Homo sapiens: one gene and its partners. The protein of the gene in region 2 purifies or fractionates together with the protein of the main gene of each other region. This does not show direct contact. Each region holds a gene or a part of one and is shown on either strand. Other genes may lie near its edges.

Region 1 (7,023 bases), on a different chromosome or scaffold from region 2:
AGCCTTGCTTAACAGCCCGAAGAGAAACTTTTCCAAATGCCCAGAACCTGCAACAGAAGACAACAGTCAAACTCCAGCCTCACCTTTTTGTACAGCTCCCAAGAGCCTCATTAGAGAGAAGTTGGAGGTTGTAAGTCCGGCAGGGGGTTCCAAACTCCTTATATGAGTTGAGCTTCGTTCCAACAAAGAAACTATGGTTCCAAACAGAAGTCACTGTCATTGTTTACCGAAACGTACCCCCTTCCCTAACATCCAGTGCCGAAGGATCCACGGCTAAGCCTCAGGAAGAGCATATTCTAAACAGGTGCATTAAAGATTTCTGCATTGGACTGCAGCTAAGTGTTGAAAGTCAAATCAATTACAGGTTGAAAAAATGTTTTTCAAAAGGCCAAGGGACCCCTGAAAATCAGGGCGTCTACTTGTTTTTTGGTCTGCTGAGTACCCTGGCCAGGTGATTGATGCGCATGTGCTTCATGAAGTGAGTCTCTTACATCATCTTTTTGTTTTTGACACAGTCTCACTCTCTCGCCCAGGCTGGAGTGCAGTGGCATGATCTTGGCTCACTGCAACCTCTACCTCCTGGGTTCGAGTGATTCTCCTGCCTCAGCCTCCCGAGTAGCTGGGATTACAGGCACACGCCATCACGCCAGGCTAATTTTTGTTATTTAGTAGAGACGGGGTTTCGCCACTTTGGCCAGGCTGGTCTTGAACTCCTGACCTCATGTGTTCTGCCCGCCCCAGCCTCCCAAACTGCTGGGATTATAGGCATGAACCACTGCGCCTGGCCTCTTTTACATATTCTATCATCTGCTAAACATGTCAGCTAAAAGCGTGACTTTCTCCTTTTATGATTGTGACTTGCCCACAGTCAACATGCCTGTTCTATCACCCTATCGCTATTATTGGCCAGCAAACATTTCCTATTTATGTTCAGTGCATGAATAACTTAAGCAGAACCAGAAAAGAGGGCTTATGCAGGCCGGGCGCGGTGGCTCACGCCTGTAATCCCAGCACTTTGGGAGGCTGAGGTGGGTGGATCACGACGTCAGGAGATTGAGACCATCCTGGCTAACACTGTAAAACCCCGTCTCTACTAAAAAACAGAAAAAATTAGCCGGGCGTGGTGGCGGGCGCTTGTAGTCCCAGCTACACGGGAGACTGAGGCAGGAGAATGGCGTGAACCCAGGAGGCGGAGCTTGCAGTGAGCAGAGATCGCTACACTGCACTCCAGCCTGGGCAACAGAGCAAGACTCTGCCTCAAAAACAAAAAAAAGAGGGCTTATGCTCCTTAATCACATTTCTCCTGTACATGGTTTTCTCCATGTTTTATGACAGGTAATCTCTACTACTGATAGTTCTCTAGTCTTGGTTTGGTTCATCAAGATAAAGAAGAAATTAAACACCGACAACAGGTTTAGCAAGTGTGGTAAAAGTTGCTGTGGATGTAAAAATATCCAAATGATCATTAAAGAACAATGAAAAGAATCATGCTGGCTTCCAAGAAATTGCACAGAAGATAATTCTCTTGCAAGGTGAAGGTTAGTCTCTTAAAAAAAAAACCCATTCATCTTGGAAAAAATTTGAGGAAAACGGTGTAAAGAGACAACTTCCTGAAAATTGCAACCATGTTGTCAGCAGTGTCAGGATCACGTGGCTCCCTGACCTTGCCCTGCTTTCTCCAGTCAGGTGAGCCTACTGTCCTGACCTGCAGTTAATTCAGTAACTGTTAGCTCACTGGCCCTGCCTTTTAAGTACCAAAGGAATGAGTTGGCTTCCTGAGAAGGGCAAATGACCTATCAAAGGTCTTGCCTGAGTGAGAAAAGGTATAGCCCATTCTCTTGTGCAAAGATTCCAATAAAACTCTAATTTGCAGTCATTGGAGACAGTCATTGCCTGGTGAAATTACAAAGCTTTTTAAGGAGCCAATGGCACCATCTTTTAATCCCTATAGATTGATATGGCCTTGAAGTCCTTGGCCAATGGAGGGATCAGGGCTTGACCTGATCCTAGGGTCTCTCTCCTCTAGTATCTTGTGTTCATTTGGTGGTAACATCAAAGTCTGAACACTGATCCTGGATCCAACTTCAATAGTTTTTCAGTTTATAATAGAAGTAGAGGCCCTATGATGATTACACCTTATTTACTGTCTTGATGTAGAAGTCCCAAACTAAGTACAACATTTATTAGTTACAGACTATGAGCAATAAAAGGGATTAAAATAGTTTCTCACCACTATTTGGAAGGAACTTGTTACTGAAGAAAAAATTCTATTTTCCCTCCTATATCCTGTCTCATAACCTTGGTAATTTAATGTTTTAAGTTACTGTATCTTATTATTGTATTCTTAGGAGCTAACAGTGAAATGTATCAATAACATATCAAACAAGGTATTGACTTCTATCTGTGGTCTTTAAACTCTACTTGAGGCTTACTGTTTGGGAGAGTTAGTAGTTAATACCTCCAGGTTCACCTGACTCTTCTATCTGTGGTCTTTAAACTCAACTTGAGGTTCACTGTTTGGAATAGTTAGTAGAGTCAGACGAACCTGGGTTTGAATCCTGATTCTGTCACTTACTGCATGAACATAGGGAAGTCACTTAATGTCTGAAGCTCAGGCCAGGCCTGGTGGCTCACACCTGTAATCCCAGCACTTTGGGAGGCCAAGGCGGGAGGATCACCTGAGGTCAGGAGTTCGAGACCAGCCTGGCCAACATGGCAAAACCCCATCTCTACTTAAAAAAAAAAAAAATTAGCTGGGCGTGGTGGCAGGCACCTGTAATCCCAGCTACTCTGGAGCCTGAAGCAGGAGAATCGCTTGAACCTGGGAGGTGGAGGTTGCAGTGAGCCGTGATTGTGCCATTGCACTCCAGCCTGGGAGACAGAGCAAGACTCTGTCTCAAGAAAAAAAAAAAAAGATGTCTGAAGCTCAGATTCCTCAAGAGGAATAAGAGGGTGGGACAGTGGTGTCACTCAGAGCTGTTATGAGGATTAAATGACATAATGTATCTAGCATAACGATAGTCATAGTCATCACAGATAAACGTCAGGTCCCTCACTTTTTCCTCTAAAATGAAAAGTGTGTATCAAGGACACTCCTAAGCACTATAAAATGTAGTACAGAAAATACACAAGTCCTTCAATTTGGTAGAGAGATTTATCATGGGGGGAGTGTGTGCATCTGCAACTGAAAAACACAGAAGGCTGGACACGGTGGTTCACACCTGTAATCCCAGCACTTTGGGAGGTTGAGGCGGGCAGATCACCTGAGGTCACGAGTTCAAGACCAGCCTGACCAACACGGAGAAACCCCATCTCTACTAAAAATACAAAATTAGCCGGGCGTGGTGGCGCATACCTGTATCCCAGCTACTTGGGAGGCTGAGGCAGGAGAATCGCTTGAACCCAGGAGGCAGAGGTGAGCCAAGATCACACCACTGCACTCCAACCTGGGCAATGAGCAAAACTCTGTCTCAAAAAACAAACAAACAAAAAAACAAAACACACACACACACAGAAAAGTATGGCACTATAACAAACATGGTTTTAGTTATGGTGTATTTTCTACAACATGGTTTAGTGGAAAAGATTAAACTAGGCCTCAGGAAACTAGGTTCTCCTTGCAGCTCTACTATTTATTGGCAACACAAACTTGGACAAATCACTTATGCTCTCTGTGCCTGTTTCATCATCCACAAAATAGGATAAATTCACTCTGCCCACCTCTCTGTCCACCTTGTGCCCAAAATAAAAAAAATACAGATGGAGGCACTCTGAAAACCACAAAGCAACACAAATGTTAATATAATTAAATGTGTTTATTACGGAGAAGGGGCTTGACTTTGTGACTACAACTTTGTGCAAAAAGGTCTAGACGTTAGGCCTGTTTATAGAAGGTAGTTAAAGAAAATGTAGCTTTGGGCTAGCAATGTTCTGCTTTTAGTACACATCCATTTTGAGACCAGGCAAATAGAGGTTTAGTGAATATGAGATCATTTGCAAAATCTACCAGAGAAGAAAATGATTTCCCTTTAGGAAGAGATAATACCAGTTTTTCTCTTGCAAACCTATTCTGAGTTGTTACAGGTCTCCTGTCAAAATAAGCATGAAAGCACCAATGGCCACTACACACGACAGGTATGCTACTTTACAAACGACAGGTATGCTACTTTACAATCACCCTGCCCCTAGAAAAGCTTAAGAAACTTTATGTATTTTAACTAGAGAGGTGGTCTCATAACTAAAGATGAGATTCAGCAGAGAAAAGCAAAGATATTTCAAATGACTGTCAGGAACTTCCTGGCTCCTTGGGCCTTGGTCTTCCCTCCTGTTAACCGATTCCAGCCATCAGCAAAAGGAGCCTCTAGGAAGCTTCTGAAGTTTGATTCATAATCAAGGTGAGTTTCAACGTTCAGTCTTTCGCCCCAAGCCCTTCTCGCCTCATCTCTCCTGTTTCCAGGCTCAATCACTGGTTTTATTCTTGGGTCCTAGTCTCTGTGGCCTACATTTTTTCTTTTGTTTTTGGCCACATCCTCCGTTTCTGGTCCTTGATCTTCACTGTTCATTTCCTGAGCCTCCACTTCCACTTATCTGCCTTGCCTGCCCGTCTTACCTGGCTAGTTTTACCTGTGTCCTACCACCTGCATCCTACTTTGCTACTCTAAATTCCTAGATGTTGCATTTGCCTGAAACCTAGAACCTATTTCTTGTCCTGTAAACTTAGAACCTATTTCTTGTACAACCTGGTCCTGACTGGATTCTGAACACAGTGCTTATTCTATCTAGCTGAATTTCAAGTCTTTATATTTTTCTCCAGTCTGTTTACCCATCCAGTTTCTACTGGACATGCCTCTTCTCAAGGCAGAAACTCAACTGCTTTCAGTATCGCCAGCCTGCCCTAGTGTAACCCTCAACTCTTGGGGGAGAGAAAAAGAGAGGGATAAACCACCACTACTGACCACTGAAGCAAGAAGTAATGTTTTCAGGACAATTTTTTTTTTTTGAGACAGGGTCTCATTCCCGTCGCCCAGGCTGCAGTGAAGTGGCACATACTCGGCTCACTGCAGCCCTGATTTTCCGGGATCAGGTGATCTCCCACTTTAGCCTCTCAAATAGCTGGGACTACAGGTGCGCCACCACACCCAGCTAATTTTTTGTATCCTTAGTAGAGATGGGGTTTCACCATGTTGCCCAGGCTGGTCTTAACTCCTGAATTCAAGTGATCCACCTGCCTTGGCCTCAGCCTCCCAAAGTGCTTAGATTACAGGTGTGAGCCACTACACCCAGCCTCTTTCAGGACAACTTTATATGCAGTCTACTGGCATGCCTAGGTGAAAATAAACTAAATGACTGAAAATGTTAGTATTTTGACCCTTATAAATTCAAAAGGCAGAGAGAGCATTTTGGATGGGACAGATGGCAATTGAAAATAAGCTTGTTTACCTTGTGAGAGTCTTTCCCCCTGGGGACTGATAAGTTGTGGCTTCTGGGTCATTGCATTCCAACACTGAGGCTTCCCTGGCAACACCCCTAGTCCAAGGTAACCAGGATAGAGCTCTGGAAACCACTCCAGCCCCATGCAGCTGCGAAGAGTCTTCCTGCCAGCAGCTGCAGCATGATTGGTGAAGGGGCTCTGAGGAGTGTGACGCTGGGCTGAACATAAAGGGCTCTGGCACCCAGTGTGTGATGCTTGGAACTGACTATCAGATTTGGGCTCCAGAGATAACTGTCCCTCGGGACTCTCCATTAATGCCTTTACATCAGGGACACAATGATGATTCTGGGCTTCTGCTTTCTTTTCTTGAAGAAATGTTGTAGCTAGAGAGGCAAGACTTTGACTACTTGACTGCGATACAGAATGAAACTGGTAAGTCGTCTCCCTCGGAATGAACAAACTTAAATGTGGTCTTTCCCCTTGAGACTCCTTTCCTGTGACTGAATCCCTGGTGTTGAAGTTCTCACAGCCATGGCTCATGACAGTCCGTTCCTGCTTTTCTGTTGCAGACATACTTTTCTCTGCATTTCCTTTGCTCCCACACGTCTCTACTCCCAGGGTAAGTCCTTTCTCTTGTTTCTCCATGACTTGGATTTTACCTAATGAGCTCATTTTAAGGCTTAAAATGAGGGATTCTGTGTTCTTTTCTGGAGTCTCAGTAACTGTAACATCAGTAGGGACTCCTGAGAGGTGATCCCTGCCTTTGGAATCTCTCTCATTGCTTAATAATGTTCTTACCCTTTTAACCCCATCACTGACATTCTTTGGAGAAATATGACAATCACCAGTAGGCACATCTAGTAATTTTACTAGAAGTTCCTGTCTTTGGGGATCAATTTTGTCCAATTTGAGATCACCAGAGGTAGTTTGTACATCATTAGGTAGAGTTGAGGAATATTTTCTATCTTGATTTGACAAAGAAGGTTCTATTGAGCCAACCAGTAAAGACGCTCCAGCTTCTGAAGGATTACATCGACTTTCTCCTGATTTAGGCAAATCTTTGGCAAGTTCTCTTTTAGGAGAGGTTTTCTCTGATGCGTAAAACTGAGCCTTGGTTTCTTCTTGGAAAGTAGTCATTGGTTTAGTATTTTTTAACATTTTGAAGGATGGTTGGATTGGATTCTTGATGTCTTTATCTGCCTTTGTAGTAGCTGCTCTTTCCAAACCAACAGCTGGCAGTGGAAAGGTCTTCACTGTCTGTTCTGGTTTGTCCACCACCAACTTAGAATTTCTTTCTTCATTCTCTGTCTCTAACTCTTTCCCTTTAGCTTTAATTAAATCTTTGATTGGTCCTTTCATCTTTTTAGCACGTGGGAGTGTAGCTGGCTTGGACTGATAAACTTTTTGATCAGTAGGTATGGTTGGTCCTATCATCTTACAGTATGGCAAGTGGGATTTTAATCGTTTAAATGGCTTCTTACAGTAAGGACACACTTCCATTCTGGGTGGATTATCACTCATCCTATTCCTGAAAAAGGTAAATGTGAGATTATGAGAAGCACATAGTTTGTACATACCAATATTTTACTTAT
Region 2 (7,023 bases):
ATCACTCTTTATTTATACATTCATTTATTTTTTCATAAGCTTTTAAGTTAAAATATGGAGTTCTTACTATACACTAGGCACCGTGTAGGCATTGGGGATCAAAGTTTTTAATGTGTAAATTTAAATTTTACAAAAGAGTACTGAGAAAAACATAAAGACGGCCAGTTGGCTAGCCTTCCAGCTAGGCTGTCAAAAAACTATAACACTTCACACAGGTTTTTCTTATATATTTTTGTATTTAAGCCTCATAGATATCATTATTCTCATTTTCATAGGGAATAAATATTAAGTAACTTTATTGATCAATTTGTTTTTGACAAAAAAAAGAACTATAAAATATGACTGTTTTTATTGCTTATAAAGTGCCTTTGATTTTGATTCCTTTTGTGTAAACCTTAATAATTTTCTTTGTCTGTCTTTGAGCATTGCATAAAAAGGCATTGTATAAAGGAATATCTGTCTCCATATTTTACAAAAGAATACTTCGAGAAAACCACTTCAAAGTCAGTCCAAATGTGTAGTGGTACACCTCAAAGCAGCCATCTCAGTTTGTGGGAACCTCCTGTGCATTGTTACTTTTTAATATAAGTGAAAGCTCCTGATAGGCAGACTATGAGAAAATTATCTGGGACAGAAATTGAAGACATCCAGGAAATCTGCAGTGATTGTTTCAGCAATGACTTAAATTTCTACTCTTAGATTTATTTTTTATTTTAATTCAAGCTAGTCTGTTGAAGATTCTGGTCACTTGATCTTACTTTTTATACTCTTTCAACTATGCTGGAATATATTAGATTATGAAATTCATGAAAGATTAATAATCTGGAGCTTTTTTCAGTAGTCTAGGATTTGGAATATGATTCTCATGAAAGGAAATTTTCTTCACGAAAAAAGTTTCACAGAGGAAATAGTACTCAAGCTACACATATTTAATAAATAAAGCTGATACTTGCATTTCTCCCTTGTATGGATAAAAAGTCATTTAATTTTTTTTCATTTTGTTTTAGTCACTGTATATATGCCTTATTTCCTGGGTCCATGGGAAGCATGAGTCTGTTGGGACTTGGGACAAGAAGAAAACAAGACATCTTCACAAGGAAAACCAAGTACTAAAAAAAGTATCCTCCCAACTCTGAAGAGATAGAACACAAACATGGCCGACAGTGGACTTAGGGAACCTCAAGAGGGTAAGACTGATTTGTCTGGCACTGAGGTTGCTGCTGTAGGAAACCAGGGGTGTGCAGAGAGAGAAAATCTCTGATGACTAAAATCTGAGGTTTTGAAGTAAAAAAGCTAATTCAGTGGGTTCATTTGTTTTGATTATACTTATTCTTTCAAATTTACTGAATTTTACTATAATGCGAGACCCTAATTATAATATAAGGAAGATAAATGTTTTAGAGACTCCAATAGTAAGGACTTATAGTAATGGAAAAATACAATGCTTCTTTAAAAAATGATGGTAGACAAATCTTTAGAGTTATATATATCCTGTGATGTGCTATATTTAGAAGGTATCTTTCTTCTTCCTCTTCTTCTCCTTTTTTTTTTTTTTATGTTACCCAGGCTGGAGTGCAGTGGCGTGATCTCAGCTCACTGCAACCTCCGCCTCCCGGGCTCGAGTGATTCTCATGCTTCAGCCTCCAGAATAGCTGAGATTACAGGCGCCTGCCACCACACCCAGTGAATTTTTGTATTTTTAGTAGAGACGGGGTTTCACCATGTTGCCAGGCTGGTCTTGAACTCCTGACCTCAGGTGATTCACCTGCCTTGGCCTCCCAAAGTGCTGGGATTACATGCATGAGCCACCACATCTGGCCATTCTTACTTTTATTAAAGAAACAAAGTCTTTTGGAATTTCCCACGTGCTGGGTTTTGCTGATTATATTCTTGAGGCATAATTTAATGTATTCCTGTATCCCTATATTTCTTGGAAACTGGTTGCTCTAGAAACTTACCAGATTTAAGTTTAGTTGTTTGGCAAAAATACTTCCCAAGTGGTCTAGAGTACTTCTTACTGCATTGTATTAGAAAGTAAATGATATCTGTTTGGGTTTCCCTGTTTTCATGATGTGAAGATTGGTCGCTGGGTTCAGCAGTTGTCAGTCTGGCTCATCCACTATAAAAGTCCCTATCAGCCTTTTGCATAAGGTTTTGCTACCATTGATGAGCATTGCCTTTCATTAGGGAAGAGGATATATTTAATATAGCCAAAAGTTTGTTCTGTCATATAATTTGTTTTATATTAGTGTCATTTTATATTTATTAACATGATAAGATTTTTTTTGTTGTTGTTTTAATTGCCTTTAGTGGGAGCCAAGAGAAATAATGTTTAGGAAGTGTCTTGTAAACCATGAAAATCTATGTAAATATTATTATTAAACAGGGACCTTGTTAAAATATAAATTTATGGGGAATTTTTTCCAATAAAAATTATAAACTTTTATCTCAATAGACTCTCAAAAGGATTTGGAAAATGATCCATCAGTAAATTCTCAGGCGCAGGAGACCACAATCATAGCAAGTAATGCTGAAGAAGCTGAGATCCTACACTCTGCCTGTGGTCTTAGCAAAGACCACCAAGAGGTAGAGACAGAAGGTCCAGAAAGTGCAGATACAGGTGATAAATCAGAAAGTCCAGATGAAGCAAATGTGGGGAAACATCCAAAGGATAAAACAGAAGATGAGAACAAGCAGAGTTTTCTGGATGGCGGAAAAGGGCATCACCTCCCTTCAGAAAATCTGGGTAAAGAACCCTTGGATCCAGATCCCAGCCATTCTCCAAGTGACAAGGTAGGAAGAGCAGATGCACACTTAGGGAGCAGCTCTGTGGCCCTCCCTAAGGAAGCGAGTGACGGAACTGGAGCATCTCAGGAACCACCTACTACAGACTCCCAGGAGGCCCAGAGTCCTGGTCATTCCAGTGCAGGGCAAGAGGGTGAGGATACACTGAGGAGGCGACTGCTGGCCCCAGGTAAGAGAACCCCCTGAACTACTCTCCTGTTTTGTACTGCTCTGTTAACTGAGAACACAGCAGAAGTCAGAGGCCTTCTTTCCAGAGAACTTTTGTCATCTTTCATAGGAGTAAGGCCTTTGGGCCTTGCCCAAGCTCACACCAAGCCATGACTGAGTTGATTTTAGAATGAGGTTTCTCATCTAGGCTAGCTCATTCCACTATATTAAGTTGCTTCCTACACATAAACTGCATTTCTAAGCATGTTTTTATTAACTGTTTATATTAATGTGATATGACAAAAAGGGGCATGACTTTTAAAAAATTCGCTTCTGGTTTTTTATTTCTTATGAGAATATTTCGACTTACAATTTTTAAAATCTTTTACTTTTTGGGAAACTAAATGTTACATAAATCAAGAGATGGGTATATTTAAAAATGAGCATTAATGGGACAGTATCCTTAACTCAGTCATGTTTCAGTTTTATAGGACTTTGAGTAAGACAGTTAGTTTCTCTATACGTGGTTTTTTCTGCCTATATGTTAAGAGGAACAAGCATGTCTTCCCTTATGAAGCTAAGCGTTGCAGTGTGCTAAATCCTTAACTGGAACTGGAGGTGTGAATTCTAGTTGTGGCCCTACCACTTGCTGACTTGGGAGACCTTGGGAAAATCTTCCCTTCCTGGTGCTTCAATTTCCTGTTTGTAAAATGAAGAAGTTGGACAAGATGATATCCAAACATTCTTCTAACTTTCACCTTCTGTGATTGTCTGTGTGGGTTTGTATTTTATAAGCACTCTGAAGAGCTCAGTCTGAAATGCCCATTTGCCAGTGCAAAAGAATATAAAATATAAGATGTTCTGTTCATCAGGGACTTCAGCAAGGGCTAGTAATTCATGTTTCACTGCAAATCAATGACTAATCTCAAATATATGTTTTATTTATTAATCATTAGAATAATCTGTAACTTCAGTGAAGGCAAGGACTGTGTCCTCTCATTCATTGTGTATCTCTGGCACCTGGCACATAGAAACACCTTTATGAATTTTGTCAAATGAATGAATGTGATCTGTAAGGACCATGACCTGCGTCAGAATTTCACTGTTATAAACTAGGTGCAATTACTTACACCTCTAGTCCCAGTTACTTGGGAAGCTGAGTTGGGAGGATTGCTTGAGCCCAGGAGTTCAAGCCTGCAGTGTGCTATGATCACCCCTGTGAATAGCCACTGCATTCTAGCTAGCCTGGGCAATCTAGTGAGATCCCATCTCTTAAAAAAAAATTCACTGTTAGGCAGGTTCACTGTGAGTAGAAAAAATATTGTTTAAAAAAATCTAGTTTAGGCCAAGGGTGGTGGCTCACTCCTGTGATCCTAGCACTTTGGGAGGCCAAGGCTGGTGGATCACTTGAGGCCAGGAAGACCAGCCTGGGCAACATGGCAAAAACCCATCTCTACAGAAAACACAAAAACAGCTGCATGCACCTATAGTCCTCAGGAGGCTGAGGTGGGAGGATTGCTTGAGCCCAGGAGGTTGAAGCTGTGGTGAGCCGAAATTTCAGCACTACACTCCAGCCTTGTTGACAGAGTGAGACCCTGTCTTTAAAAAAAAAAATGCAGTTTATGTATGGAAAGCAATTTAATATAGTTGAATGAGGTTATCTATACTCTAAGAGATGAGAAACTTTGTTTTCATCTCAACTTAGCTATATCTCTTTTTTTTTGTTTTTTTGAGATGGAGTCTCACTCTTTTGCCCAGGCCGGACTGCAGTGGCGCTGTCTCGGCTCACTGCAAGCTCCGCCTCCCGGATTCACGCCATTCTCCTGCCTCAGCCTCCCGAGTAGCTGGGACTACAGGCACCCGCCACCGTGCCCAACTAATTTTTTTTTTTTGTATTTTTAGTAGAGACGGGATTTCACCGTATTAGCCAGGATGGTCTCGATCTCCTGACCTTGTGATCCGCCCGCCTCGGCCTCCCAAAGTGCTGGGATTACAGGCGTGAGCCACTGCGCCCAGCCAGCTACATCTCTTTATGTGACCTTGGGCAAGATCTTTAATATCCCTGGACCTTTTTTCATGATAGGTTAAGTAATGGGGCCGGAGTAGGTGTCCATTATAGATCCTTTCAGTTCTTAGATTCTATGATATGATATTTTAAGAACCTACTCTTTGGGGTGATAGGAACAATCCTTTATAAGTGAAGATGATCCTACTCATCTATGCTAATAGAAGTACCTGGCTGGGGTTAAGCACAAATTTAGATTCTAGTGTGATTTAGCTTAGAGTGCTAAAAATTGTTGCCCTTCTTTTCACCCACATATTTTAAGCTTGGCATGCCCTCCCTACATCTGGATTTTTACATATTTCGTGAATTTTCTTCACCTTATATTCCTTGCTTTGTATATCTCCTTCACTAAGAGTTTCAAATTTGCTTCTGTAAGCTATTTTGCAACTGTACACTAATCTCTCCTATCTTAGAACTTAGTGCCTCTGTTATTTTTATATTCGGGGTCTTGAGGAACCATGTGAAACTCGAACACTGGAATTAGAGCACAATTACCCTGTGAAGTTGAATCTTGTGTACAGCCAACATTTCTTAAATCCCTTCTTGATTTTATACATTTTGCTGAATTACATTTTAGGTAAGTTTGGCCGCACTATTTAAATGTCTTTGTCTTTGATATAAGAGGCAGTAAGGAATTGTGAATATAGCAACATTATCCTTGAATGAATTTCACAGTATTTCATTTTATCCTTCTAAGTAGAATAAAAGTAATAGTCTTAAAGAAAAGACAGGAAAAATGTTAACTTTGGTTTTTTTTTTTTTTTTTTCTGAGATGGAGTCTTGCTCTGTCCCCCAGGCTGGAGTGCAGTGGCACGATGTCGGCTCACTGCAACCTCCACCTCCCAGGTTCAAGCGATTCTCCTGCCTCAGCCTCCCACGTAGCTGGGATTACAGGCGCCCGCCATCATGCCCGATAATTTTTGTATTTTTAGTAGAGACAGGGTTTCACCTTGTTGGCCATGCTGGTCTCAAACTCCTGACCCCAAGTGAGCCACCTGTTTCAGCCTCCCAAAGTGCTGGGATTACAGGCATGAGCCACCGTACCTGGCCAAGGTATAGAAAGCCTTTTAGTCAAATCATTCTTTGGTTTGGTGAGAGATATAAAGGTATACATACTGTCATTAGTGTACTGCCTAAAAATAATATTGATTCTTTTCCTCTCCAGAGGCTGGAAGTCATCCACAACAAACACAAAAATTGGAAGAAATTAAAGAGAATGCACAGGACACCATGAGACAGATTAATAAAAAGGGTTTTTGGAGCTATGGTGAGAACAAACCTGGTTTTACTGCAGTGTTGATTCACTTTCAGAAATCCTCAGTGAAAATGCCTAGAAAACTAGCAGATTTAAACAGTTTTAACATTGTGTTTATATATACTTATTTAATGATTGGTAGTGAGACATAGTAAAATAGTACACTAGAGTTTTAGGGATTTTTCCCTTACGGGTGCTGGCTGATATTTTGCTGTGCTTAACAAAATGGAATTTCTCACAATAGGAAAGGCTTTTCCTAAACAAGAAACAAAAACTGCCTTTCTAATTAGAGAATATTAATTTTTCAAGTGCACTTTAAAGTTATGACTCCTAAAAAAATGGTCGGCTATAGGTAGTAGGTGCATTGAGAAGATGAAAAAAAATCTTGATCACTCATGTCTAAATTACATCATTAGTTATAATAACAAATACATAGACTCAGCTTTTACCTTTTATTTTTAAAAATTTTTTACCGAGTACTTAACTCTTCCACGTAGCTTTTATCTTTTAACAGATATATCTTCAAATAATTAAATCTGAGAAGAGATTAGAGAAAAGGTACTTCTGGTGGATTGAAAGTTTAAACAATTTATGCAAAAGAAACTTATTGCTCCTAGTAAAACCTGCTGGTATCTCTGCCTCATTTCAGTTTACCACAGGCTTTGTTTCTGGCTCGTGTTCTCTGTAATTTTCTATTCCTTTTTCATTCTTTTGACAGGCCCTGTGATTCTTGTCGTCCTGGTTGTGGCTG
Region 3 (7,510 bases), on a different chromosome or scaffold from region 2:
AAAGCTAAGGGAAATCCACATGGCTGGCCAGTTGTAAACAGCAGCTCCTACTCGGTCAAAACAAGGCTGGTACCTGAAACGAGGCTGGAACTGGGAGGTCTGCCTGGAGCCAGGGTCCAGGGACGAGGTCTGCCAGGGCCGCACTCTGGAGCTCTCAACCTTGTTTGGGTCAAGGGCTCTGTAAGAAGCTCCCCAGGAAAAGAAAGCACACACACCTCCCACGCAATTTCAGGGGAGCCAGGGGCTCTTAACTGGCCAGGATCCCAGGATTTAAAACCAGGAACACCTCCCAGGATTCAAGGGCGTAAACCACATTCACCATTCGCATATCTTATGATCAGACTAGAATCCAGCATTAGAATAAGAAGAAAGTCTATTCAAGCAGCCCAGAGGGAAATAATTCCAGGCTGCCGGATTAGCAAACAAGAGCAAGGGAGAAAAGCCAGGAAGGTCCTCCCTCCACAGAGAAAAGTAAGAGCACAATACATGAACAGACAAGGCACCCGGTGAAGGATACTTTATCAGCATTTTTTTCAGCCCACTTTCTGGGTCTTTCCAAAACCCCCTCTTGAGCTGTGATCTGCAACTAGACAGACCCTGATCAGATCCACGTGCTGGTGGAAAGGACAATTTAAAAAATGAAACTATCAAACGACAGACGGTTACAGAAAGAGGATCTTCTACCCTGATTACTTTGTTGTTGTGGGGGTGGCATGGGTGCTTGGGGACAAAAGGCATGCTGTGAAGTACCTCTCCCCACCTGGGCCTTTGGTACCCAGAATTAACAAATGGCATGGGTTCTTATTTATTGTTTTATAAGATCACTAAAATGTAGTCTTGGGACAACAGGAAAAAAATAATAATAAAGCTCACAGAAGTGTCCTGGGCTTCTCCGCAGCCGGTCATTGTTCATTTAGTAAACAAGTGAGCCATACAAATCTCTAGGAAGCCAGGTTTGTTCAGTTTATGCGTCCTCCCAGAACTAACTGTTCTTTTGGATAAGCACGGCCCGGGCATTCCACAGACCCACAAACATCAGGCAGTGGGCAATCTGGGGTCCCGCCTAAATATCACTGCCCCCTTACTTTAAGAAATCCGCCTACAAGCAGAAAGCAGAGGTGGAGGAGGGGGATTGGAGAGCGCTGCCTCTTCCCAAGCTTCCCACTCTGAGGGATTTGGCCGAGTCCCGAGGGCACTGAGCAAGGAACCAGGAATATTGTCCTCAGGGCTCCACTGGACATTCCTGGAGTCTGTTTCCTGGGCAGGACGGCCAGGTGAGAGGCAGCCTATTACACTGCATGACCACTGCAATGAGGAACAGTAGAATGTTCCCCAGCGCCTTAAAGTACAGCCGCTGTCCATCCACGGATGTCAAAACGCTCTGCAAACCACCCATTAATTTTTATGGTGGCTTGAGAAGCAGATTGAGAATCATTACCTTCATTTTTACAAGGCAAGGAACCAAAACCACAGAGGGCGGTGAGGATCCAGGCCTCTCCCATCATTTCATCTGGGCCACGGATCTCAAGGAAAGCCCCCAGCCCACTGGGAAGGGGACTCGTGGCCAGCAGAGATTCTGCCCGGGTAGGGAGCAAGGAAAAAACCCAAACTTTGGAGCTCAGAGACGGTCACAAGGGTGAGAAGGGGCGGCTGCATTCAGGGATTCTCTGGTTTAGGCAAGAATGGCTCCAGTTCTAACTTAATGTTCAAATCTGCCAGGCTGTGACAAGGCTGGTAAAAAATGTGGGATTGGGGATGGTTTCCTGTTTGCTGTTTATATTTCTCTTTATCTCTAGCTTTCTGTCCTGAGCATACATTGTTTCTGTAATCAGAACAAAAGTTATGCGAACTTTATTATTATCACGGATAAATTCTATAGTTCCAATCTGCCTACTAACTTGGAAAGAATAAGCAGGAATACAATCTCGCACAGTGTTCTTTTTCAGATCTCATCGATCCATCAGGCTCCACGACCCTCTGCTCGCTGAGTCCGGCGGCTCTCCCGCGGCTCCTCCCGCGCGGCATCTCTGGGCGCCCGACACCCGGTCAGGGCCAGCTGGGCCTGTCCCCAACCCCCGTCTACACCGCAGGCCCCGGGCTAGGAGCCGCGGGACCCAGGGTTGGGGTCCCAACTGACACCCGCCCGTGCCGCGGAGCGGGCTTCTCGGTAAACATCGCTCAGAGAACAACGCGCCTCTATCCCAGCCGGTCCCCGCCCGCGGGCCGCCGGCGCTGTCACCTCGCGGCTGCTCGGTCACCCGATCGCCAAGCCAGAAACCGGAGTTTTCAATTTCATCCTCACAGGAGGGATCTCCGAAGAAGTTGAAATATGCATTGTCACCAACAAGTTTAACCGGAGACCGCGCGTCCTTCCCTCCTCCCCAGCGCCGCTCGAGGGGGGCGCCCCGACCCCTCCACGCCCTCCCGTGGCCCCCACGGCCCCCGTGAGCCGAGCGCGCCCCCCGATTTGCGCCCGAGGACGCGTCCGGTTGCCCAGGGAGGCCACCCCGCAGGGCCGCCCGCCGGGAAGTGGCCAGAGCCGGGGTTGGGGGGCGGCCCGAGCGCACGCGGAGGGCTGCGGCTCGGCGCCCGGAACCCCGGGCCGGGTCCCTGCCCACCAGCACCAGGGAGACCCGAGCGCCCGGGGGAGCGGCGAGGGGCGCGCGAGGCTTCCCCGAAGCCGCCCCACGCCCAGGCACCCGCGCAGCCCCGAACTCAGGCGGCGGTGGCACGATCGGCGCCCGCGGCACGATCTGCGCCCGCAAGGGAGTGCAAAGCCCCCGAGCACGACCCCGCGCCCCCGCCGGCCCCCAGGGCCCTGCCGCCCGAGGCGCTCCCCGCCGCCGCCTGCCTACCTGGCTCGCATGGCGTCCCCGCCGGCTCCTGAGGCTCCGCTCGTCGGCCAGCGGCTCGGCCCAGCCGGGGGCGCGCGCGGCTCCGCGGGACTCACGGCGGCGGCGGCGGCGGTAGTGGCGAGGGGCCCGGACCGCCGAGAGTGCCGGGCGCGCTGGGCCCCCGCCTCGGCGGGCGGAGGGTGGTCCCGCGCCTGGGCGGGGGCGGGGGCGGGGGCGGGGGCGGGGGCGCGGGGGGCGGGGCCAGGACCGGAGCTGAGGCCGCGGAGGGGGTGGTCCCGCGCCGGGGCGGGGCTTCGGGAGAGGGGCGGGGCGGGGCGCGGCCGTCTGAGGCTGGCGAGCGTGGGGCGGGCTGGGGGTGGTGCCGCGGCTCCGGGTCCAGGCGGGTATCCAGTCTGGGCGCCTCCTCTTCTTCCTCCGCCCGGAGCCGGCCAGGGTAGCGGGGCCTTGGCCGCCCGGCATCCTCGGGTCTGGGTCCCCGGTACCGAGCAGGTCTGGGTGCTGGCCCGCGCTCCTGTGCCCCCCCGCACCCCCATCTCCCACCCCTTCTCCGGGAACCCCTAGCGAGGACCCCTGGGGCGGTGCGGTCCCCCCGCGAGCGGGCGTGGGCGAGGGTCGCGCCGCGTTCGGAGACGCTTTACTACACCTTGGCTGAGGACAGTGGAGGGAAGGCAGGCGCGAGGCTGCGGGGGCCGGAGCGAAAGTTACAAACTAACAACAGGGAAGGCAGTCCGGCTGAAAATCATAAAAGGAGGAGAGTTTCCTGCGAAGCGGAATGCAGATTGAAGGGCTCTGGTCGGAATCGTTTACACTTTGTCTGACCTGGGCGCCTCTGGGCCCCCGGCGCGTAAAACAGGCCTGGCACGTAGTAGGCGCTCCATCAATGCCCAGTGAGTGAACGCACCACTTAACTATGTGGCCAGCAACGTCTATGGACCGACACATCTAATCCTAAAAAAAAAAAAAAATCCCAATTTTGGCTAGTCCATTTCACACGAGTAAACTAGAGCTCGGAGGGTTGGTTCGCCACAGAGGAGAAGGGTAGAACCAGAATCTGAACCGAGGCCGACTCCAGAGGCTGGGGTCTAACCACTGCGCCACTGCCTGGGGCCCTCGGGACTGCGCCCACCCCCACCCCGGGAACCCGGAGCCCAGGAGAAAGCGCGGGTCTTTGCCGGGGAAGAAGCCAACATTTGTTGCTCCTGGTCCTGAGCGAGACACACACAGTCAGTCCTCACCATTAACCCCGAGGCAGATATTGTTATTGTCCCCGTTTTTATAGGTGGCTTGAGACGTGCAGCACTATGTTATGATCGCATGGGGCGTGCCAGAGTCTGAATTCAAACCGGGTATGTTCAGACTCCCGAGCCCCTGCGGCTGCCCCTAAGGCCTGCCGCTCCTGCCGTCTGGGAGACCTTCCTTTCCCTAAGGAATCTGGTTTTCTGCCACTCCATTTGAAGTCTGTGTTGAAGTTTCAGGAGACACAGGTGGACAGAGGCACCGACCTAGGGCTCGGGAGAAGGGTGGACATTGCTGTTCCGATTTTGGTGTCATCTGTGTGTAGATCATGGAATTCCTGAAAATGGATACGAGTATCCCTAAAATACATGCCGCAGATTTTGAAAGGAGGCAGTGAGGCGAAGGGGCAGGTGGAGGAAGCAGAGAAGCCTCCGAGCAGAGGAGAGTTTCTGGGTGGCTAGGAGGTCTGATTGGTGTAGGGATGTGTCTGGAGTGTGCTTGAATCTCTGGCAAGTTATCTCGCCTCTCTGTGACTCAGTTTCCTAAATGAGTGTAAAAATGAAAGGCAGCATGTAAAGTGCTCAGCAGACTGCCTGGCACACAGTAGCTTTCAGTAAGTTTTAGCTACTATTAGTACTGCTATCCCAAATGACATCCACACTGTGTTTTTTAAAAAATGCCTATAAAAACATTGAAAAAGACAAGCCAGTAGAAAATGGACAAAAGCTATGAAGGTAATTCCTGAAATGCCACAAATGGCTCAAAGCATGAAAAGCTCCTTGACTATACTAGTGAGGGAGCTAAGGCAAAACATACACACACAAAAAACAATCGAATAAGAAAACTCAAGGCCTGTCCAGGCAGCTCAGTTCACTGAGCAGAGAGGGAGAAAGATACCCTAAAAACCACAAAGAACAAAGTGCCATGGAAACGCAGAATAGAACATGAATAAACAAAGCATTACAGATTTCGCCTGGGGAAGCAGAGAGTGTGTCTTACGATGTCCACATATGTATGCGCAGTACTTGCTATAGTCATGCCTCAAGCATCCTCAAACCAGTCCACATCCTAGAGAGGAATTAACAGAGGTCAGAATGTTTAAACAAAGTGGTTAAAAAAAAAAAGAAAAAAAAAACAAGAACACATTACCTTATATTCTTACTACAGTAACTGGAATTCTTCTTCAGCTCCTATGAGCCAGGGAGACAACATTACTGGTTTAGATGTAAGTTGTTTATGAACTGTTTTCTTTTTGTATCCTGGAAGGCAGAAAGGTCTCTAGATGTTGCTTCCTGTTGAATGTGTGCTTTTTTTCCACCAGTTTTTGTTACTTGCTCTTCTAAAGGCCTCTGGATCAAAAGAAAAAAAAATGAGCTATTCATTCATAACATTCAATTATTCAATAAGCCTTTCCAGTGGGAACACATACAGCAAAATCAATAACTTGGGTTTTTATTTTTTTTTAGTACAGAGATAACACATTTGTTTCAAAGGATTAAAATGATTAGAGAAATGTGTAGAGTAAAAAGTAAGCATCGATCCTAAGTTCCTACCCTTTCCCAGATTCCATAGTTCACAGTGAATTATACTCTACCAGAGGTTTTCCCCAAGCGTTTGCACGCGTTGGGTGCGTGCATGTGTAGATGATACATATGTGCGTGATGTGTGTGGGTATATATACGTGGACATGCATCTATGTATAAAGACAGTGTGGTAGGTTCTAAAATCAGGCTGCCCAGCTTTGAATGCCAGACCCACCACTCACCTGCTGGGTGACATAAAGCAGGGCCACTCAGTACCAGTGTTCTCACCTTGAAGTGGGTACAGTGCTCCCCAGGATTAATGGAGGTGCTGCATGGAGACTGCTTAATGTAGTGCTGGGCGCACGGCACATTGTTTACAAATATAAGCTGTTACTATTCGTGTTTACACACACATATACGTTATTCTTTGTTTCACATTAATAAGTTGAAGACAGTGAAATTTGGATGTCTCAAAAGGACTCCACTTGGCAAATCTCTCGGTGAGCGCTGGCTCCTCTGTGTTGGGGTGTACTCAGCGGCTCTGTTGTCTAGGAAAGTAAGATGCACACAGATGAGCAGGGAAAGATTGGGGTAGGTTTGACAGTCAATGTGCTGCATCTGTTACTAACACCAGCAACAGTTCAATCACACCAAGCACCACCAATTCATTCCAAGGACTTCTCAGAATAGATACAACACTCCCAGAAAAAGCAGCCCGGGCAAGAATAACTCCCAAGTAATATACACTATCCCAAACTCTACATAAGCTCTCTAATATGTTATAACATTCTGACCACCTATAAAATACACTTCATATTAGGAAATAACTACTCAGAAATTGCATGTGGCCCATAATGAAAATATCTCTCTATGGACAAAAACATTCTCAGCAATGAAATAAAAAGAATAATGTTCTTCTGGTGAAGTGAAATCATTAATGATCAAAATGCCCATGTCACAGGGAAAATAGAATACAAATGTACAAAACACAGCTAAAGGGCAAAGAAGAGCACAAGGCATAGGATATTTTTCAAATGGAATCTGTAAGAGTAGAAATTTAATCGTCAATGTGGGTGAATGGATTTTTAAATTAGTTGCCTCTGACTCAGAATGCAGAGAGAGGACCTGTTATCAAAATGCAAGCCTAGATACATACCCTCTGTTGGTGATAAAATTTGGATATTTGTTCCTTCAAAATCTCATGTTGAAATATGACTCCCAATGTTGGAGGTGGGACCTGGTGGGAGGTGTCTGGGTCATGGTGACAGACCCCTCATGGCTTGGTGCTGTCCCCCCAATAGTGACTGAGTACTGGGGAGATCTGGCCTTTGAAAGTATGTGGCACCTCCCCCTCTTTCTCTTGCTCCCACTTCGCTTTCCACCATAAGTAAAAGCTCCCTGAGGCCTCATCAGAAACTGAGCAGATGCCAGAGCCATGCTTGTACAGCCCACAGAACTGTGAGCCAAATATATCTCTTTTCTGTATAAATTACCCAGTCTCAGGTATTCCTTTATAGCAACACAAGAACAGCCTAATACAGTGGATTTAAGTTGAGGGAGAAAATGCTGCTTACATGATTCACAAGCCTACAGAATGACATTCATTTGTTCAAGAAATACTTATTGGACATCTGCTGCATGCCAGCCCCGAGCGTGGCCCCAGGGAGTGAGAGCCCTGGTGAGACAGAGGCAGCTGAGATTCCAGAGTGGACCCAGGCAGAAGGGGAACCACAAAGCCTACAGGTGGTGATAAGCATCCTAAAAGAAAGCACAGTGGGCTGTGAACTAGGATGAGGTGAGACCTGCTTTATGTGGGAGGGCTGGAGAAGGCCCTAGGGGAGGTGACATTGGACCCGAAGGGAAAGGAGTGGAGAGGGGCGTGCTGGGCAGAGGGAA
Region 4 (7,508 bases), on a different chromosome or scaffold from region 2:
TCCTCTTTGTAGGAGGATTGCAACAGAGGACTGAGAGTGGGGGGCAAGGCTTCTGGGGTCAGTCTTGTCACTTGTCCCCATCACTTCCCAGCTATGGAGGAGAAAGGGAAGGCACAGCCCAGGTGGCACAGCTGTCTGTCCTAATCGTCTTTGGCAAAAGCTCAGAGGAGCTGAATGCTGAAGTATCCTCAACCCACCCCACTCATCTTGTTTCCCTTTTCTTCATTTTCACATTTTTTTTTCTGCCAGTGTAGTTACTGAATGTCAGGGGGCCCAGTTTCTGTGTCCTGCCTTGTTGTAGCATGTGGGTTGGAACTATGCTTTCCTTGTGCACCGCATGTGCTGTGGGGTGCTTAATACATGCTAAATAATGACAGCAGTACCCCGTATGCCCGAGAAATCAGCCTTCCTCCTGAGGGCCATATCCCATTATGTTACACTTGTTTTTAAGACGGACGGAAGCTGAAGGCATCCCTCCTGCTCACTGCTCCTTCCACTTTAGATGAACAGCTGGAACTCACATAACACAGCCTCTTCCGACAAGATTTCCTTTAGAGAGAGAACATTCTAGGGATGTGATCACTGAGCATCCGGGCTCCAAGCCGAAAGGCAACCTGTTACATAGCGCAGTTCCCATTTAGCCATGCAGGCAAGAGACCCATTAAAACCTCATGTGAGGGAAGAGGTCCCAGAGAAAAGGTTCCTCTCTGCGTCCCTGAGAAACCCCTCAAAGCTTCTGAGCAGAAGGCTATCCCTCTAGGCAGAAAGTAACAGTGAAATAAATCTGCAACCGGCAGCGATTCTGTCAGAGCCTCTGGGTCTGTAACTATTTTAAGACGTGGAGGAGTAGGATGAGAGCACGGGCAGCTGGACAGAGTGGCTCCAACAGGACTGCAGGGGAGACGTGCGGTCACCTGCGGCGTGGGAACAGCAGGGCAAGGGCAGGCGGGCTCGGCTCCTGGACTCCTCCTGCGGCCACAAAGCTGCCCTGTTTCTCCGCACCTGGACCCCCAGTGTGTGACTCTGCATAGAGCTCATCATGATTTGTCGCCCAAGGTCATAACCAGTCACAGCCAGCATCATTTCACCAGGCACACGGGGTAGAAGCAGCGAAGAGAATCGCAGCACCGGCAAACACGAGGAATTCCGGCACTAACACTTATATAATGAAAACCTTCTCCGCTCTCACTCACCGCTGCCACTCTCTCACAGCACGTAAATCATTAAAACGAACACTCCTCAAGTGTTTATGCGCATTTTAGCAACTCATCATAAAGCACATGCTTCCTAGTAGTAGAAAAACCTACAGAAACGTCTGTGAAATTAAACAATGGATAAATTCGAATCAGCTTTTCTCTTTTGCAGGACTAAGAACTACAATAGGTCAAGTGAATACTGGTGTGAAAACTAATACCCAACTACAGTGTACCTTTAAAAATGCTCCACTGAGATTCTGATGGTGCCTTATTAACAATTAGAAGTAAGAAGTAATAGCAATAAGTCAGAATTTTTTGGATAAAAATATATATTATGAAGGATTACCGGAGCAAAACCCCTTTTACTGCTGAAGATGACATTAGAGGCTTCTGTTATCATTATAATTCATCTGGGCAGCAAATTTCTCTTCAGCTCAATAAAAACTAAGTATGAAGTAAGTTTCTTTCTAAAAATAGCCCAAGAACTCAGTACTACTTTCCTTTCTTACACTCTTTTCCTACTAAATGGAACACTGAAGTATTTCCTTTCATTGTTGACACTTTATGTCATTTGCATTTAAAATCAGACAATACATAATAACAAAGAAGTCTTTAACTAAATCTTTTCAAAATGGGAAAATGGCTTTCACAATACTAACTGTGGACCTGCCTCCTTCCTTGCTCTAGAGATGACAGGCATAGATAGCTGGTGAGCACCTATCCTATCGCCTAGGAGAACTGTTTTATTAATAACAATATTCCTAAAGCTGATACATTTACTTGCTAATTGATAAAGAAATTCCTGCCTGGTTCTCTGCTGTAAGCAAACTGTTTGGCTTGAGGTCAGTCCACATTGAAAACACACTTCTAAATAAGCAAGATGATTCAAATTTAATTTAAAATATTCAATATCAAAATCTTTTGTTTTCTTCAGTACAAATTTAAGTTGGTAATAATGTGTTAGATGAACTGCAGTTAAGGTTACAGAATCCCATGGCCTTTGGTTACTTTTGATAACTAACTCAGTCTAAAAGAGGATGCTTTAAATTATTCTCTAAAACCTTCTTCCTAAATTAATTTTTTAAAGTGCTTCTCTTTAGGCATATATGGGTTTATTTTTTAAGCACAAAATCCCCCTTAAAAGGATAAAAAACTGTCCATCTATACATTCAAGAAAATTACATTTGACACTCCATTATTTCTACAAAATAAACTTGTAGCACAGAGTATAACAGGAATTAACTTTCAACATTTTTTTCTCAAGAATTAGGTTACCATAGTAGAAAACAAAGCTCAATGACACAATACAATGTTTCTGTATTTACAGAAACCATATCCATTAATCAAATATTTTAACATAAAATAATAATCTACAGATTGCTTTTGCAAAAATAAGTAAGAATCGAAAACTTTTTCTTGGGCAAATTGAATAAGGCAGATTTATTGCAGTAGGAGACATTTAAAGAAAAACCTTTTGCCACCTCTCTTAGCTTTCTCTAACGTACCAACCTGAAAGCTTCCAGTTTTCCCAAGAGATAAACATTACTATGACGGTAACATTAGGAAGATTTAAGGAGAAAAGAACAAAGAGAAGTCTTAAAATTCCACCCAGTACTTACAAGTAGTTTCCAAGAAAACTGAGCCACAATTCTTCAGAAGACTGCTCTCCTGATCACAAACACAATCTGAAGTCTAAAATAGATATCCTACCACATTAGGCCGAGAAGTCACATTTCAGCTTGCTAACTTCTACTTTTACAACTCATAGAACTAACCCCGGCTAAAATTAACTGCAGCCAAGCAGCAGGCAGGAACACGCTGATTTGCATCATGTGTGCCGGGATTTATTCACTAGGACAACATCGGTGTCCTCTTAATGGGAAATGCGGCCAAGGGGCGTGCCCTGGTGAACAATACATAGCATCATGATTATGCTAATTACTGAATTCAGTCCAATAATACTAACTTCTTTTAAGTTGTTTTTGCAAGTACTGACAAAGAGAAGGAGTAAGCTTTTTCCCAACAGGCATTCACTTGATTTTTAAGCACATTCAAATCAGACCAAACTTTGGCAACAAGGTGGCAGTGCTGTGTGCTCTTCACAAGCAAAAGCAAAGCAAAAGGACATTCTGTCCGATTATTTAAACAGCGTGATTAGATGCAGCACTACGTGAAATTAAATAGACACAGAATATACATATCAGTAAGTCTATCCACCAGAATCCTGAAATAAAAGCTTTTTCTTTCTCTATAATGAACTGATTGCAGGGACTTGCTTTCTGGCTCTGCCTCCTCCTGCACCTCCCAAGGAGTCGCTATGAAGACACAGATTCAGTAATAAATCACAACTGAGAATAAACATCTCAAATATTTGCAAAGGCATTGTCCTTGGCAAGAAGCATTTTAAGGTGGATTTAACTCCTTGGCTAGAAAAATTGTCCTCTGTAGGTGACTGACCATCTACAAAGCATGTTGGAACTCAAGTTAACAGGTAAAGACCCCAAACATACAGCTGACACTTAAAAGAAAATCAGAACATGAAAAACTTTCTCTCGAAAATATAAGTACAACTTATAACAAAGACACAAAACCGCTTAGTATCTACTCAAGACGGTTTGGGACTAGTTTGCTTTAGACTAAGTTCTGATGACATATTTTGCTCTTATTGAACACTCTATGAAAGATATCAAAGCACTTTACAAACATCAATCAAATCTCCAAGCATCTTTGGGAGATGTCATTTTCCTCTTTTTTTTTTTTTCCCACAGACAGGTAAAAGACAGGGTAATTCCATTTCAACGACTTCAACCAACCCTGGATCACCCCATCTCCTCCTGAGACCTTTATAACATCTTCCGTATTAACCACTTACCTATAATCCTATAGACCTTTTCAGAGCCATTTGTTTTCCTCATTTTAAAATGTCATATGTTAGTTTGGACTTCAGGAGATTCACTCTACTTAACACCCAGATGCCAGGCCTGAACCCCAGGGGCTTAAAAAGCCCTCCTTGACTCTCTCTTGCAGACAGGTATCCTGCAACATGGATCCCTAAAACATGGCGATGCCCTCAGGAGGCACTGTCCATCTGCAGCCTGCTGCCCAAAGCACAAACCGGTTGATCTTCATTGGTGTGAGTTGGACATCACCAGCACAATCTCCCTCCTGTTGTTTACAAACACTGCTGGCTGCTGATCTGAGATTGCATCCCCTCGGCCTAACCTGAGGCTCTGTGCCAGCACCTGCCCCACCTCTGCAAGAGGGTGGCTGGTATGCATTCCCCTTCACTCCAACCCAGAGTCATGGGAGGCAGGCATTTCCTGCTCTGTGCTGAAAGGAGAGAAGTCAGCACTCATCAAAGATGGCTAGCTGCTAATGAACAGAATTATTCTCAATAATCCACTGCAAACTCACTCCAGAAGTCTTAATGCCAAAAAGGACCTTGTAAGGCTATTTTTGACACGATATTCTCATCCTATTATGTCATAGTTCAGGACAAAAGTCTCTAAGCCAAAATATTATTTCTGCCCTAAACCAGAAAGTAAGAAAAAGCAAATACACCAAGTGCATTTCTGCATCAGAGTTTGTATTGGAAAGGAGCAATCTGATGTATGATGGATCCTACATCCATTCATTGGAAGGCAGGGGCCCCTGAGCAATGCTCCGGTTCCTCACATGTCAGATATGCCTAGTATGACTCTGCTGTTTCAACAGCAGCCACACCTGTTCCACAGTGGAAGAACCAAAGCATTCCAAATAAAAGAGTCTCCTCCAATTTACATTAGTCATTCTGCTGCTTCCTTTTCATTAGTGAAACTACTTGAGTCAACAGTGCTTTTGTTCTAGGTATACTTATGACAGTAGATAAAAATCTGTATCAGAGTACCTTGAAAAGCAGAGTAAATTCTTCCCATTTGTTCTCATTAATTTTTGGTGGTAGAGGAGGGACAGGGAAGGCGGTGACCTATGGGATCTTTAGTTCAACGAATCCATGAAATTAAAGAAAATTACTATGTTTATGAATGTCCACTAATGAATGAACCCAGATACCAACCTTCTATGAGCAGTTACATGTATAATTTAAAATTTTCTAGTAGCTGCTTTTAGAAAAGTAACAATAAAGAGGTAAAATTAATTTAATAATATATTTTAACTCAATATATCCAAGATATGATCATTTTAATGTGTAATAATCATAAAAACTATTAATGAGATATCTTCATTCTTTTGTTTGTACTGCCCCAAGCCTGTGCAATCCAGTGCGTATTTTACAATTAGTACATTCCAATCTGGACAATCCACATTTCCAGTGCTCAGTACCCACATGTGCCTGGTGACTATCATAGTGGAAAGCCAGAGTGTACAAATATCTTCCTGACAACAGCTTTTCTACAACATGTACTAATATTTACATGTTTCTGGGCATGTGCACACTTATATACACTCAAGAAACATCAACTAAATACTGGGCATATAGGATGAAAAACGCCTAGTTTTTGTCCTCAAGGAGCTCAAAGTTTAGATACTTGGCATCCTTTGTTTTTTAGAGCTAGGGTCTCATTCTGTCACCCAGGCTGAAGTGCAGTGGCACAATCATGGCTCACTGCAGCCTTCACCTCCTGAGCTCAAGCAATCCACCCACCTCAGCCTCCTGAGTAGCTGGGACTACAGGCACGTGCCAGCACACCTGGCTAATTTTAAAATTTTTTTGTAGAGAGGAGGTCTCACCATGTTGCCCAGGCCAGCCTCGAACTCCTGGGCTCAAGTGATTCTTCCACCTCAGCCTCCCAAAGCACTGGGATCACAGGCATGAACTACTGCCCCTGGCTTCTTGGCATTCTTTACCTTTGAAATAATATGCAAAATATTCTGTGTTCTCTGTGTGTATTCTTCTGGGGAGATAACTTTCTTCATCACTTTATTAAAGGAGTCTGTGTCTCAAAAAGGTTAAGAGCCAGGAGACTAGACTAGTAGCAGATGCTGGGAGAAATGGAGAGCTAAGGAAAATGAAGGAACTGAGACAGATAGAAGGGGAAAGATCCGAGGAGAAAGAAAGACTAAAAGGAAGATAAATAAACAAAAAAGAGAGAAGAAGAATTTCATTGCTAGACATGAAATTTTAGTTATAAAATCATATAATAAAAATTGGTGGCCAGGCGTGGTGGCTCACGCCTGTAATCCCAGCACTGTGGGAGGCCGAGGTGGGTGGATCACGAGGTCAGGAGTTCAAGACCAGCCTGACCAACATGCTGAAACCCTGTCTCTACTAAAAATACAAAAAAAATTAGCCAGGCATGGTGGCGCACGCCTGTAGTCCCAGCTACTCAGGAGACTGAGGCAGGAGAATCCACTTGAACTTGGGAGGCAGAGGCTGCAGTGAGCCAAGATCATGCCACTGCCAAGATCACACCAGCCTGGGCAACAAAGCAAGACTCCGTCTCAAAAAAAAAAAAAAAAAAAAAAAAAAAAAAAAAAGGCATGTTCCAGTTACTATGCCAGGTACTGGGGACAGATACAGAGATGAAAGACAAGGTCTCTATGTCCAGGGAGTTCACATTTTAGTGACAGGAACAGACTCACCCAGGCAGATACAATACTTGGGTAAGTATGAAGACGCAGTTTATGTGCAATGTGCTATGGCTACAGCGGGGAGAGGAAGGAGGGTGCCACACAAGAGGGACGCAATACCCCCCCAACCTTTTTTTTTTTTTAATTGAGAAGATGTCTCACTCTGTCGCCCAGCCTGGAGTGCAGTGACACAATCTTGGTTCACTGCAACCTCCACCTCCCAGGCTCAAGCGATCCTCCCACCTTAGCCTCCCAAGTAGCTGGGACTATAGGTGTGCACCACCACACCTGGCTAATTTTTATATTTTTTGTAGAGATGGAGTTTTGCTATGTTGCCCTGGCTGGTCTCAAGCTCATAATAGGATAGTAAATAAATAGGCTGGGCTCAAGCAATCCACCCAACTCGGCCTCCCAAAGTGCTGGGATTACAGGCGTGAGCCACCATGCCTGACCCCTCATTTCTTAAATGAAGGTTATTTTCTGATCAAATTTTAAATCTATGTTCTGGAATAACTCAAGATTCTGCATTTTAGTTTGGAACCTTAGAAAAGCATGGATAGGTCATGGAGAAATCAGGTATTCTAAAATATTTTAAAATGACATCTGGAAATAGCAGTGAAGTTTCTATTCTGAGCTATTTATCATCAAATTGAACCTGGTTATTTGATCCAACTATTTAAGGTTGAGGCAGGAGGATCACTTGAGGTCAGGAGTTTGAGACCAGCCTGGCTAATGTAGCGAAAC

What was found.
Region 1: the proteins of TOR1AIP2 (region 2) and MTNAP1 purify together in Homo sapiens (affinity purification with mass spectrometry; 2 studies listed by BioGRID and IntAct, with this or other methods). This does not show direct contact.
Region 3: the proteins of TOR1AIP2 (region 2) and SH3BP4 purify together in Homo sapiens (affinity purification with mass spectrometry; 2 studies listed by BioGRID and IntAct, with this or other methods). This does not show direct contact.
Region 4: the proteins of TOR1AIP2 (region 2) and SLC20A2 purify together in Homo sapiens (affinity purification with mass spectrometry; 2 studies listed by BioGRID and IntAct, with this or other methods). This does not show direct contact.

What each region holds. Positions count from the first base shown.
Region 1 is NC_000017.11:73,235,412-73,242,434, reverse strand, and holds part of MTNAP1 (mitochondrial nucleoid-associated protein 1), read right to left. Parts: intron 6,960-7,023; 5' UTR 6,953-6,959; coding exon 5,440-6,952; coding exon of another isoform or gene 5,339-5,439; exon of another isoform or gene 3,797-5,338; intron 335-3,796; exon of another isoform or gene 192-334; coding exon 84-191; exon of another isoform or gene 13-83; coding exon of another isoform or gene 3-12; intron 1-2. Other genes in the region: CPSF4L (putative cleavage and polyadenylation specificity factor subunit 4-like protein), read left to right, coding at 3-12. UniProt on the Homo sapiens protein: Critical regulator of mitochondrial DNA (mtDNA) abundance. Binds dsDNA throughout the mitochondrial genome without sequence specificity and controls mtDNA copy number by promoting its replication.
Region 2 is NC_000001.11:179,846,796-179,853,818, reverse strand, and holds part of TOR1AIP2 (torsin-1A-interacting protein 2), read left to right. Parts: intron 1-1,007; 5' UTR 1,008-1,153; coding exon 1,154-1,187; intron 1,188-2,455; coding exon 2,456-2,974; intron 2,975-4,944; exon of another isoform or gene 4,945-5,594; intron 5,595-6,182; coding exon 6,183-6,284; intron 6,285-6,990; coding exon 6,991-7,023. UniProt on the Homo sapiens protein: Required for endoplasmic reticulum integrity. Regulates the distribution of TOR1A between the endoplasmic reticulum and the nuclear envelope as well as induces TOR1A, TOR1B and TOR3A ATPase activity.
Region 3 is NC_000002.12:234,947,516-234,955,025, reverse strand, and holds the start of SH3BP4 (SH3 domain-binding protein 4), read right to left. Parts: upstream 3,010-7,510; 5' UTR 2,856-3,009; intron 2,312-2,855; exon of another isoform or gene 1-2,311. UniProt on the Homo sapiens protein: May function in transferrin receptor internalization at the plasma membrane through a cargo-specific control of clathrin-mediated endocytosis.
Region 4 is NC_000008.11:42,498,216-42,505,723, forward strand, and holds the start of SLC20A2 (sodium-dependent phosphate transporter 2), read right to left. Parts: upstream 3,017-7,508; 5' UTR 2,816-3,016; intron 1-2,815. UniProt on the Homo sapiens protein: Sodium-phosphate symporter which preferentially transports the monovalent form of phosphate with a stoichiometry of two sodium ions per phosphate ion.